Regions from separate parts of the Homo sapiens genome. Here regions 1 and 2 are each reported to be linked to region 3. Evidence: microRNA targets listed by miRTarBase, many of them from high-throughput screens and not tested one by one. Region 3 holds a microRNA gene; each other region holds the end of a gene's coding sequence.
The links. The annotated mature microRNA hsa-miR-4771 reads AGCAGACUUGACCUACAAUUA and lies in region 3 at 2,862-2,882, shown strand. An mRNA with a match to its seed (bases 2 to 7 or 8) in the 3' UTR can be bound and repressed. Matches are read on the target gene's strand: a 7mer-m8 pairs with bases 2 to 8, a 7mer-A1 pairs with bases 2 to 7 and ends in A, and an 8mer does both.

Region 1: miRTarBase lists PDP1 as a target of hsa-miR-4771. Seed matches in the 3' UTR shown: 7mer-A1 at 2,616-2,622.
Region 2: the mRNA of NPLOC4 is a reported target of hsa-miR-4771. Seed matches in the 3' UTR shown: 7mer-A1 at 931-937 and 8mer at 993-1,000.

The regions. Positions count from the first base shown.
Region 1 is chr8:93,923,000-93,927,242 of GRCh38, forward strand. It overlaps PDP1 (pyruvate dehydrogenase phosphatase catalytic subunit 1), which reads left to right. Exons shown (of 2, transcript NM_018444.4): 2 at 1-3,069. The coding sequence ends at 674. Among named protein-coding and RNA genes, the nearest start is that of PDP1, 8.2 kb to the left of the region's middle.
Region 2 is chr17:81,555,402-81,559,644 of GRCh38, reverse strand. NPLOC4 (NPL4 homolog, ubiquitin recognition factor) reads left to right here. Exons shown (of 17, transcript NM_017921.4): 17 at 229-2,758. The coding sequence ends at 386. LOC124904085 (a long non-coding RNA gene) reads right to left here. Exons shown (of 2, transcript XR_007065947.1): 2 at 2,326-4,243. Among named protein-coding and RNA genes, the nearest start is that of FAAP100, 5.2 kb to the right of the region's middle. RefSeq lists enhancers at 1-432, 433-934.
Region 3 is chr2:87,191,969-87,196,179 of GRCh38, forward strand. MIR4771-1 (microRNA 4771-1) reads left to right here and starts at 2,818; the gene lies at 2,818-2,891. It also overlaps the pseudogene LOC102724642.

The sequences.
Region 1 (4,243 bases), not on the chromosome of region 3:
ACAATGCTCAAAATGAAAGAGAACTAGAACGGCTGAAATTGGAACATCCAAAGAGTGAGGCCAAGAGTGTCGTGAAACAGGATCGGCTGCTTGGCTTGCTGATGCCATTTAGGGCATTTGGAGATGTAAAGTTCAAATGGAGCATTGACCTTCAAAAGAGAGTGATAGAATCTGGCCCAGACCAGTTGAATGACAATGAATATACCAAGTTTATTCCTCCTAATTATCACACACCTCCTTATCTCACTGCTGAGCCAGAGGTAACTTACCACCGATTAAGGCCACAGGATAAGTTTCTGGTGTTGGCTACTGATGGGTTGTGGGAGACTATGCATAGGCAGGATGTGGTTAGGATTGTGGGTGAGTACCTAACTGGCATGCATCACCAACAGCCAATAGCTGTTGGTGGCTACAAGGTGACTCTGGGACAGATGCATGGCCTTTTAACAGAAAGGAGAACCAAAATGTCCTCGGTATTTGAGGATCAGAACGCAGCAACCCATCTCATTCGCCACGCTGTGGGCAACAACGAGTTTGGGACTGTTGATCATGAGCGCCTCTCTAAAATGCTTAGTCTTCCTGAAGAGCTTGCTCGAATGTACAGAGATGACATTACAATCATTGTAGTTCAGTTCAATTCTCATGTTGTAGGGGCGTATCAAAACCAAGAATAGTGAGTGGCTCTTTCACTGGCAATTCTCAAATGATATACATTTAAAGGGCAGATTTTTTAAAAAGATACTACTATAATAAACATTTCCAGTTGGTCATTCTAAGCATTTACCCTTTTGATACTCTAGCTAGTCAGGTACTCCAAATTGACTTTGCAGCAGGGTGGCAGGGTCAGGAGAGTCTGGTCCTGCCTAGCTCAGATTTCATGGCACCTGCACTTGAAGCAAGTCACTTCTTTATCACAGGTGTCTTGAAACATTAGCTTCTTTTACCAACCTGAGAAAATTAGGATGACCTGGCAAATAAGATCTTGAATAGGCCAAAAGCAAGTATCTTGCTGTGTGTAGTCTCTTGGTTAAAGTGAAGAAACAGTACTGTTCACACCTTTCTTCACTGAGATTCCAGTGTACATGAGAACATATATTTATTGCATGATTTTCTAGATACACAGTCTATGCATTATTCATATACATTTATTTTAGCCTAAAGTGGTTTTCAAATCCAGTTCTTCAAGCCATAAATGACCAAGATCCAAGCAATCTGAATTTGTTTTTGTGATTATTTGACTGGAATGCTTCTTAAGTGGAATAACTATACTCCGTTATCCACCCGATTTCCTAATGTAATTGAAAGATTTTCTATTTTGCCACACACTTGGAGACAATAAGGGTTTTTAGTTTTATCTACTCTTCTATTGAAGTTAAAGAAAGAAAAAAAGATTTTTTTATTTGTATTAATGAAAAGCTTTAGTTTAAAATAAGGAGATCCAGAATAAAAAGAAGAGACTGATCTCTTCAATTATTGTCATCTGTAGCCACCAGCACATCACTCTTATGTAATCCCCAAAGGCTTGGCATGCCGTAAGTGTGTGGTGGGTAGACTGCTGCCGGGGAATCGTACTTCTTATTTAGTAATGATAAGACTTTTCATTATTTTTGGAATTTTAAAGATGACATAAATAAGTTTAAATATCAATTTGGGGAGTAAGGTTTAATATTGCCATCGGGTATTGAGACAGGAGGAAGTTTCTGTTTTTCTCCATTTAGACATAGGTCAATTAAAATATTTGGGTTTAAAATGACTAAATGCTTTAAACATATTGTAGCTTAAGATATATGTGTTAAGATATATACATGAGAAACTTTAAAAGGTAACTACTGTGCATGCCTGATGCTTAATAGAATACTTAGTGGCATCAAATGTTTGCAGCAGTCTCCATAATTATATTCAGTCCCTTCTAATACTGTATCAATGTAAATGAAATAAATATATTCAAATTGGCTTTTTGATATGCATCAAGTGGCATTTTGTTCCTGTGTTTAATAGTGATCTGTATACAGCTGTGCACATATTGTCATCACTTATTCTAGCATCACTGTTAAGGCTGTGATTATGTTTGATATTCACCTGGATTTTAATACAAGCCAATATCAGCTTCCCATTGTGTAATAACTTGGGTGTTTAGGAGTCTTTTCACATTTTTTGGGGATATGAACTAGATGTTCAAGAACTCCTTCTGGACTGTGGATACTGAATCAGTGTACTATTGGCTGCAGAATTTGTTTCAATTGAAAATAGACTCAGGAAGATTGCTGCTCAGAATATCATATAATGTTTATTTTTTGAGGTGTTTTTGTTTTTATTTGTGTGTTTTTTTTTTTTTAAGTCAGCTTGGAACTTTTTTCCTGGGTAGTATTTGGGAGAGGGAAAGGCTGTACTATATATTTATTTCTAAATGTTTTGACTGGGCATTTTTCTTTTAATGAAATATGTGGACTGCTCTAGCAAACCCTATTTTCAGCTACTATTTGAATATTCTTGAACACCACCACTGAAGAGTTTCATATACACCAAATAATGTCTCATCTCTATAGTACAGGGAATATAAAATTGGTTTCCTGTGGTCATGATCAAGATAGTAGTATTATTACACAAGAAACTTGGTCTGCAGTCTGGAAGCTTGTCTGCTCTATAGAAATGAAAATGCAGCATGAAGTTGACATTGTGGAAATGAAAGTAATTGGGTATTAGAAATCTGAAAGTACTGTCATCTAAAAGCAATTGTGATTTTATTGTAATTGGTTGTCACTGTTGTACGGTGTCTAGAATTAAAGAATACATGTAAACTTTCATGGTATTTAGCCTTTCTTAAATTTTTTTAAAATTTAAACTTTCTAACCTATGTATTCAACTTCTGTATTTATATTTAATCAGTGGTTCATGTTATATAATACACCCTTAACTAGTTAAATGGAATGTTGGTATGGTACAGAGTACCATATTGCTAAGAAAACTGTCTTATAAAAGATGTATATGTGTGAAGACATGAAAGTTTAATGTACAGAATGGTTGGAGAAATGCCTATGGTGAATTAAAGCTTCATATCTGCTTTCTGAATGTCCTGTGTTGGTTTTTAATAACAAGATTGATTAGATGCTTCCTATGTGTGGTAGATTATATTTAATTTTAGGACCCAGTAGATACATAGTACTTCAAATTTGTAAAAATTGAGGTAAAATTTTTTTTCTTTTTTTTTTGAGATGGAGTCTCGCTCTGTCACCCAGGCTGGAGTGCAGTGGTGCGATCTCATCTTACTGCAGCCTCTGCCTCCTGGGTTCAAGCAGTTCTTCTGCCTCAGCCTCCCAAGTAGCTGGGACTACAGGTGCGGGCCACCACACCTGGCTAATTTTTGTATTTTTAGTAGAGATGGGGTTTCACCATGTTGGCCAGGCTGGTCTTCAACTCCTGACCTTGTGATCCACCCGCCTCGGCCTCCCAAAGTGTTTGGATTACAGGTGTGAGCCACCATGCCTGGCCAAAATTGAGGTATAATTTAAACAAAATGCACAGATTTAAAATTTGCGATGTAACATTTGGTAACACCCCAACAAAGATATAAAACTTTTTCTTCAGAAAATTCCCTATGCCCCTTTCCATTAATCCCTCCCCTCATAAGTATCATTCCACTTCTCTCACCATAATTTTGCTTCTAGAAATTTATATAAATCATACATGTACTTTTTTTTTTTTTCAGACAGTCTTGCTCTGTCGCCCTGGCTGGAGTGCATGATCTCGGCTCACTGCAGCCTCCGCATCCTGGGTTTGAGCAATCATCCTGCCTCAGCCTCCCAAGTAGATGGGACTACAAGCATGTGCCACCACACATGGCTAACTTTTGTATTTTTGGTGGAGACGGGATTTCACCATGTTAGCCAGACTGGTCTCAAACTCCTGACCTCAAGTGATCTGCCCACATCAGCCTCCCAAAGTACTGGGATCACAGGCGTAAGCCACTGCACCTGGCCCACATATGTACTTTTTATGTTTTACTTTTGCTCAATTTTTGGAGATTCACTTATGTTGTTGATTGTATTCATAGTCTGTTCCTTATTACTGGGTAGCATTCCAGTGTTTGAATGTATCACAATTTATCCATTCTCTATTGATGGATGTTGTCAGTCTCCCCCTGCCCCCCTTTAAAGATAATTTTTAGATTAATAATTCTCAGAAATGCTGTTTGGTTAAGGTGTAGCTTTAACTTTGCAAATAATGATTACAGGTAAGTTTTCTG
Region 2 (4,243 bases), not on the chromosome of region 3:
CAAGCACAGGCTCCCTGTTACTCCCTGTGGTGCAGGAGGCATTTTTCTGAGGGCATTAAGCACTTCAAAGTGTGCCTGTGGTGGGAGTGCTGTGTGGGCAGGACCAGCACTGGGTGGGATGTTGGGGGCGGGGAGCTCTCAGCTGCCTGCCCCTGCCCCCATGCCCACACTCTGGCAGTCTCTGGTGGGCCAGAAATGATGAGTGCTCATTTCTCTTCCACCCTGCAGGCACAGTTGGCGGGCAGCTCCCAGGTCTCCATGAGTACGGCGCCGTCGGGGGCTCCACACACACGGCCACTGCAGCCATGTGGGCCTGTCAGCACTGCACGTTCATGAACCAGCCAGGCACAGGCCACTGCGAGATGTGCAGCCTCCCCAGGACCTAGGGCGCCTGCCCTCTGCTGGCTAGGACCGGGCCCAGCCCAGCCCTTCCTGAAGCCAGAAGCGTTGCTGAGTGTGTTCCCTGTAACTGCCCCATAGTGGGCAGCCCTGGAGGAACAAGGGGCTGGCTGTCCTGGGCTCCCTGACCCACTGAAGCTTCTCAGCACGTTCCTCCCTGGAGAGCGGGCGCCACGGCTGGTATTCTGCAGGCTGAATGCAGTCTCCAGACTGGAAACGCAGAGCGGCTCCTCACGCCTAATCCTGTTGACAAGTCCCCCGCCGTGTTGGAAAGACCTCTCGCCTCTACGTGGCACCTGGAATTGGGGCGCACAGGGAGGGGCCGATGCTGCCACCACCCAGCCTTCTCTTTATTTTCAGTGCTTTTTGTTTGGCCTCCCTGCCCCCATGTTTTTCTGGCTGGGAGCTCTTGGTTACCCCCTTGTCTGACTGCTTGGTGGCAGGCACCCTGCCTGTGAGGGCCACTTTCCTCTTCTAGTAGCTGTTGTCTGGTGGGGACGCAGTGGCCCTGGACACGGCTCCCCTCTGCAGGTCTGCAGGTCGGTTTGCTGCCTGCCCTCCTCCTCTCACCCGATGTCCAGGTGGGATTTTAAAGTCTGCATTGGTTATAATAACAGTTATCAGTAATTCCTGCCCAGAAGACTTTTATTTATTTTTTTTTAAGATAAAAACTGCACAAAAGGGGAGTGAGAGAGACTAGTTTCCACATCCTTCCCTCCTTTAGTGAAGCCCCCGAGGTTGTGTCCAGGGTGATGAGTGTGGACGGGGGCACCAGTCAGTTCTCCCTTGAAGTAAACCTCAGTGCCTGAGACTTTTCTACCAAGCCACACAGCTGCAGCAACTGCAGATACTGCGGGCTGAGCAGGAGCAGTGGTGGCGCCTGCCCTGAGGCTGCCCTGCGATGGCCTGGGTGGGAGAGCTGGGTCACCGGTGCCGATGCTCTGGCCCTCCCCAATACGCTGCTTCGTCCCACTGCACCGCCTGGCTGAGGGCGTTAGGGGCTGTGCCTCTTGTGAGGGCCATTTGGGACCTCCCTGGGGCACTGCACAATTGATAGTGTACCAATAGAGGGAGACTGGGCGATCTGGAACAGCACGTGGTGGGGTCCTGCTTGTGTGCTCTGCGTTCCTCTGTGGCGTGGCCAGGCCGGGGCATGGCTCTTACCCGGGGAGTGGTGGGCATCTCGATGCTTCTTTGCCTTAATGATGGCCACATCTGGGCTGCTCTGCACCCACGGGAGAGGCTGGCCCAGCTGCAGACTGCTTAGGGACTTCTGTGTCCATCCTGGGGGGTAAGCCCACGTGACCCACATTCTTGGCACTATGAACAGAGAACATTTGCCTGTTGGCTTCTGAAGTGGTCAGGGCCATGGCTGACACCTCCAGGTCCGCCTGGCATGGGACACCAAGTGGAAGGCCCAAGCAGCTCATCTGCTCTTGGGACCAGGGGCCAGTTGGGTTGGGTCTGGTCACGGCAGAGCTATTGTGGAGGGTCAGGAAGGGTGGAGAGGAGCTGGGTTGAAGCGGACTGCTGCGGATGCAACTCCCAGCTTGCCCACCGCGGGCTGTCTGCTCTCCCTCCTAGCAGCTGTCACACTGAAGTTTTGTCCTCTGCTGTCTCCTCTGGTCCTGAGATGAGCTGTGAGCCTAGGTGGCCAAGGCTTCCTGCATTGCTTCCCTGTGAGTCCAAGGCCTTCCCCCACCACTGGGCAGAGGCTGGACAGCACGGACTTCTAGAGAGAGCCGCGTTGCCAGTTCCTCTCCCACTCGCTCGTCCTTATCCACCACGCTATTATAGTTTCCGTTGTCCTCCACCAGCATTTCCCTTACTCTGAAGTTCCGGCATTCACATCATTCATGTTTTCTTTTGTCTTTTAGCTAAAGGAAAAGCATTGGCGATTTGTCTGATTCTGGTTTTGAGTTACTCTTTGTTCAGTAATGCACTTTATTTTATTGTCCAAAGAGAGTCAGAGCTAAGCATACAGGCTTGGGGGTGAGCCCTGCTGTGAGAGTTCAGGCCCTGGGAGGCTCAGCCACCTCCTCTTGTGGGAAGGAGGTCTCAGCCCCACCTCGCATCTTCACCTGCCCTTGGTGTGGACACACCCTCTCATGCTACCAGCACCATAATCCAGTGGGGGTGACTGGGTGCACACCTGCCCAGGTGAACACAGCGGCTGCCAGTCTCCTGGTCCCGAGAGGAGGTGGGGCCTGGCCCTGGCTCCCTCCAACCAGCTGCTCCTGGGACACAGGTGCTCCTGCTTCGGCTCTGTTTCGGCTCACAGGTGTGCATCACTGGGCTTGGATTTGCATTACATTGACCCCAGCCCTGCAGTGGAACCTAATAAAAGCGCCTGAAGCAACTGCCTGGTCCTGGTGTGTCCTTCCTGCGCACTCAACTGTTGTCTGGCATCTGCTCAGTGTGGGGGGATTTGATAACTTGTCTCCAAGATATCACTGTTTTACGTGTATGTGCATGGTCCATTTAAAGGTGGGGATCCCACTTCCCCAGCCGATCCCTCCCAACCTTGGCTCCTCGATAAGTTTCTTAAAGTGCTAACATCTGGGGGAGGAGGAGAGTGCGTCAGTGTTTGACGGCCCCGCCGCCCTTGGGTGCCTCTTCTGCCTCTGCCGCACCTGTCAGCCCTGCGACTGCCCCACAGTCACTGCTTTGTGGACAGGTACATGTGGTCAAACAGCAGGTGAAGGACAAAGCCCAGGAAGGCCAGACTGCACAGGTGCAGCAAGGAGTGAGGCCTGGGGGTGACACACTGCCTGTGTTCCTGCTTGAGCTGTCTTTCCCTGTGACAACAGAAAGCGTCTAGAACAAGTGCTCTCTGAGCCTCAGATAGGAGCCTGGCAGTCACTGTTCAGCACCACTTTGTCCTTTGGTCAGTGACTCATAGCTGACTTGAGCAGTTACTAAAAAAAACTCCAACTAATTTCTGAAGGAGGGCCCTGGGGTGAAGCAGGCCACAGGACAGTGACCAAGGTGTCCTGGCTTCTGGACTCCAGGAGCGAGAGGGTGAGTCCCCCAGCACCCGGACTCCAATCCTGCACCTTCAACACAGTGCAGTTCACTCGATTTACCCACAGCTCCTGGGATCGCTTGAGCCCAGGAGGTTGAGGCTGCAGCCAGCTGTGATCGCAAGTCCAGCCTGGGCCACGGGGTGAGACCCTGTCTGAAAAAAAATTTAAAAAGCTGAGGTGAGGAGGCTCGGGGAGGTTGTATCAGAGAAAGCAGCAGCCTGGGCCATGCAGTGAGCCAGTACCTGATCATGGCCGTCTTATGTGAGAGCCAGTGAAGATCCTTGGCATCCTCTTTGGTTCGATGTAAAGATAAAAGCCGGGCGCAGTGGCTCACACCTGTAATCCCAGCACTCTGGGAGGCCGAGGCAGGTGGATCACCTGAGGTCAGAAGTTCTGGCCAACCCGGTGAAACCCTGTCTCTACTAAAAATACAAAAACTAGATGGGCCTGGTGGTGCACACTTGTAATCTCAGCTACTTGGGAGGCCCAGGCTGGAGGATCACTTGAACCCCGGGGGCAGAGGTTGCAGTGAGCTGAGACTGTGCCACTGCACACTCCAGCCTGGGCAACAGAGCAAGACTGTCTCAAACAAAAAAAACAAAAAAACTGGGTGTGGCAGCTCACACCTACAATCCCACCACTTTGGGGAGGCCAAGGCTGGTGGATCACTTGAGGTCAGGAATTCAAGACTAGCCTGGTCAACATGGTGAAACCCAATCTCCACTAAAAAATAGAAAAAATTAGCCAGTGTAGTGATGTGTGTGCGCCTGTAATCCCAGCTACTTGGGAGGCCAAGGTAGGAGAACTGCTTGAACCTA
Region 3 (4,211 bases):
AAGAATAAACTGATGTAACACTCCTGCTTAAAGCTTTTCAATGGCTCCTGATTCAGCTGTGAAAGAAATCCCTACTGTGTGGCACCAGGACCTGTGTGACCTGCAAGGCGCCTGTTTTCCTCAACAAAGCCTCTTTTATACCACTTGCTCCCCACACCACCCTGGCCCCTTCCACTTGCTCAAAAACACTGAGCTCCTTTTCACTGTGGGGCCATTGAATATGCTGTTTTCCCTCCCTAGAACCTTTTCCTCTCATTCTTCACCTGCCCAACTCATATTTATCCATGCAGCCTCAGTTTTAATGGCATTTCCTCCCAGGCCTTCCAAGACCACTCTCCCTCAGGCAGCTTTCCTGACATCTTTAGCCTGCCCGCTCATGCTCTCTACCTTTTTTCTGTATCAAAATGCCTTTGTTTGCAAGTAACAGAAGGCCTGACTTAACCTGCCTTTAAACAGTAAGGACACAAGTATGCCTATGTTATTAGAGGTCTGCAGGTAAGGCACGTAAAGGGTCATCTTTTTCCAGTGTCTTCAACTCCATTTCTCTGAGGTTCCATCAGCTACATTCTGTGCCATGACTTTATCCTCAGTGCATTTTTCAGATGGTAATCAAATGGCTGTAACATGTTCACCTCTAGCTCAGCATGATACTCAGAGGAAGAATAGAGTTGCTTCTAGGAGTTTTGTGATGAGAATGAGGGAATTTCTTTCCCTGGAGCCTCCAGCAAGCTTGTCATTAAGTACCTCCTCAGGTTTCTGGCTCGAGTTGCATCTCATGCACACCTCTCAATCTATCCCTGTGGCAGAGAATGTCTCTTATTGAAAAAATGGCCTGGGTTTGCCTGTCTCTGAACTAACACTGCATCAGGAGAATGGGATTGCCTTGATCACCCAAGATCAGTGATTCTCAAAGTGTGGTTTATGGAGCAGCATGACCTGGGCACTTGTTAGAAATGGAGTTTTTCTGGCCCCACCCCAGACCTACTGAATAAGAATCTCTGTGCTCTGTGCATGGAGTGGGGCCCACTCATCTGTGGTTTAACAAGCCTTCCAGGTGATTCTGGCACATGTTAAAGTTTGAGGACCCCTGGCCAAGACTAGTAAGGATCTAGTTCTGGAGCTGAAGTCAGTCCCATCAAATATAATATATGGTGGAGGGTAGGGTGCGACAAGGGGTATTTCGGGGAGACAACCACAGTGACCACTGCACCTTTATAGCACTCATCACAATTTGTAATTATGCATTTGTTTGTGTCATTATTTGTGTAATATCTGTCTCCCCCAACAACACTCTAAACTCTACAATGACAGGGACTCAGTCTAGCTTGTCAGAGTAGCCTCAATACCGGCTATAGAACCTGCTTTATATATGCTGAGCGTTCAATAAGTTCTTGATGAAAAAGTAATAGAAGATATTTCTTGTGCCTCTCAGTTCTGTCATCAGTTGGTTCCGTTCCATTTGTTTCTCTCACAGTCGGGGGTGATATGTGTGTGCACGCCTACCTCAGCGGGCAGCCCTTGGAGGAATCACAGCTGAGCATGCTGGCCTGCTTCCTCGTCTACCACTCTGTGCCAGCTCCACAGCACCTGCCACCTATAGGACTAGAAGGTAATTGCATATCTAAGTCTTATCTTCAGTACCTCTGTTACCTACCCCTTTACGTTCTAGTTTCTCAGTAGTTACTGCCCCTAGTTTGACTTTCCTCTTCATTAATGTTGCAGTGTCATTGTTAGGGACTGTTTTGGAGCAAAAAAGAAAAAATTATCAACTTTATATATGAATAACTTTCATTTTTATTCAGAAAAGGATGGATTCTTCTTCACAGAGCCCCAAACACTGATCTATACTAATAAACTAAATATTCCATATTATTCTTTACTAATTGATTTTTTTATTAAAGCTATTTTTCTTTATTTTCTAGGTTTTCAGTTGGGTTTTTTAGAATCACATATAATCTTAATTTCTAATATTACAAAGCTTTACAACTAATAAATACCTAATTTTGTGTTTGAATTTTTTTATAATAGTTTTAAAAATTAATAGTATTATCACCTGATTGTATTTTTCAGAATACAGAAACAGATAAAAAAAATTTATCCATTAAGCTGAATACTAAGATATGATGAATTCTAAGCACCCAATTTTTCTGAGATTCTCAAAAAAAATATTTTCTGATAAGGGCAAAGATTGTTCCATTTAATCATTTAAACTTGAAGTTTAATTACATTACTAGTTTTTTGCTGTTTTGCAAGCCTCTGATAAAAGTTTACTATCTAGAGACTTCTGGTTATGGCCATGATGGAATTGCTTGTATTGGACTCACTTGCCCTCAAAAACAAATATAAAAGCTAAAAAAAAAAAAAATAAGAAAAGGGAAGTACAACAGGGAGAGCTTTATATTCACCCTAGCTTCTCCCCCAAAGGCATTTGCCAGTTCATAGTACAAGAAGTAGAGTGCCAGCAAAAAGCAGCAATGCTGCAGGGCTGAGGAGCCAGAGGTTGGGTTTGTGATTGCCCAAGAGCCTAGAACTTGAGGAACACAGTCTCAGGCAGGAGAGAACGATAGAAATCATAACTCAGACTCTGGATATACCTTTCCCTTGAGTTACTTAATGATATTTTAGCCTTCATATACATGGGATAAGACTTCAAGAGATCTAGCAGAAGCCACAAGGCCAAAAATGTAAGCAAAAATGTCAGCAGCAGCATAGGACTGAGGAGACAAAGGGTGGAATTCAACGCTTGTTAAAGTGAAGTGGCTCTGATCAGCATCCCAGCTCCTCAGGTGAATTAATACATGGCCAAGCCCTAAGCCTGCTCTAGCCTAATTTTAGATCTGGTCTGCTTCAGTTTCACTCCAAGCAGACTTGACCTACAATTAGCCTAGAGCAGAACTAAGGTGATCTGTGTGCTTTCTCCCCACCTGACAGAAGAAAATGTAACCTTCATAGGAGAAAGAAAACATACCCAGAGCCCCCACAATTTTTAGTCTACAGGATTCAGTGTTGAATCAAAAATTATGAAACATAATAATAATAAAAAAACAGATAATAGAAACAGACTTATGTGTGATTCAGATATTGGAGTTATCATACTGGAACTTAAAATAACTATGTCTAATGTTTCCAGGAAAATAGAAGGAATGATAGGGAATTTCACCAGAAACCTGGGGTCAATAAAAAAGAGTTAAATGGAAATTCTAGAACTGAAAAATATAGTAACTGAAATGAAGATCTCAGTATTGGATTATTTGAAGTGAACTGGAAGACACTTATCTGCTGGAAGACAAGTAGAAAGTAAACAAACTGAAGCACAGAGGGAAGAATGGTTAGGAAATACAGAGAAGAGTACAAGAGACATGTGGAAACCGTGAAAAAAAAAATAAACATGCATGGGGTTGGAATAAGAGAATAAGAGGAGAGAAAAAATGAGTTAGAAGCAATATTTGAAGAGACAGAAGCTAAGAATTTTGAAAAATGGTGTTAAATATTAACCCACAGTGAACCCTAAGCAGGATAAATACAAAGAAAACCATACCTAGTCACATTAATAGTCAAACTACTAAAAGGAAAAGGAAGACATTTTAAAAGTATAGACTTCTTTTCAGGCCAGGCTGGACAAACAGGGTTGTTCAATGGTCAACTGTATTAGAACCAGTAAAATACCACTTAGATAGTATTTGAAGGTAGACAGGCACTTTTGCACATTATATTTAAAGAATTTATATATATATATATATATATATATATAAAATTAAACAATATTAGTAGTTTCACATGTAGTTATAGGTCACTTTCTGAAGTCTAGAATGGGTAAATTCTATCAAATCATATACAGGTTTGAGTATCCTTAATCTGAAATCTGAAGTGTTTGAAATCGAAAACGTTTTGAGCACCAACATGATGCTCAGAGGAAATGTTCATTACAGCATTTTGGATTTGGGATTTTTGGATTAAGAATGCTCAGCCGAGGCTGGGCGCAGTGGCTCATGCCTGTAATCCCAGCACTTTGGGAGGCCGAGGCCGGCGGATCACGAGGTCAGGAGATCGAGACCATCCTGGCTAACACGTTGAAACCCCATCTCTACTAAAAATACAAAAAAAATTAGCTGGGCGTGGTGGTGGGCACCTGTAGTCCCAGCTACTCGGGGGGCTGAGGCAGGAGAATGGGTGAACCCAGGAGGTGGAGTTTGCAGTGAGCCGAGAGAGCG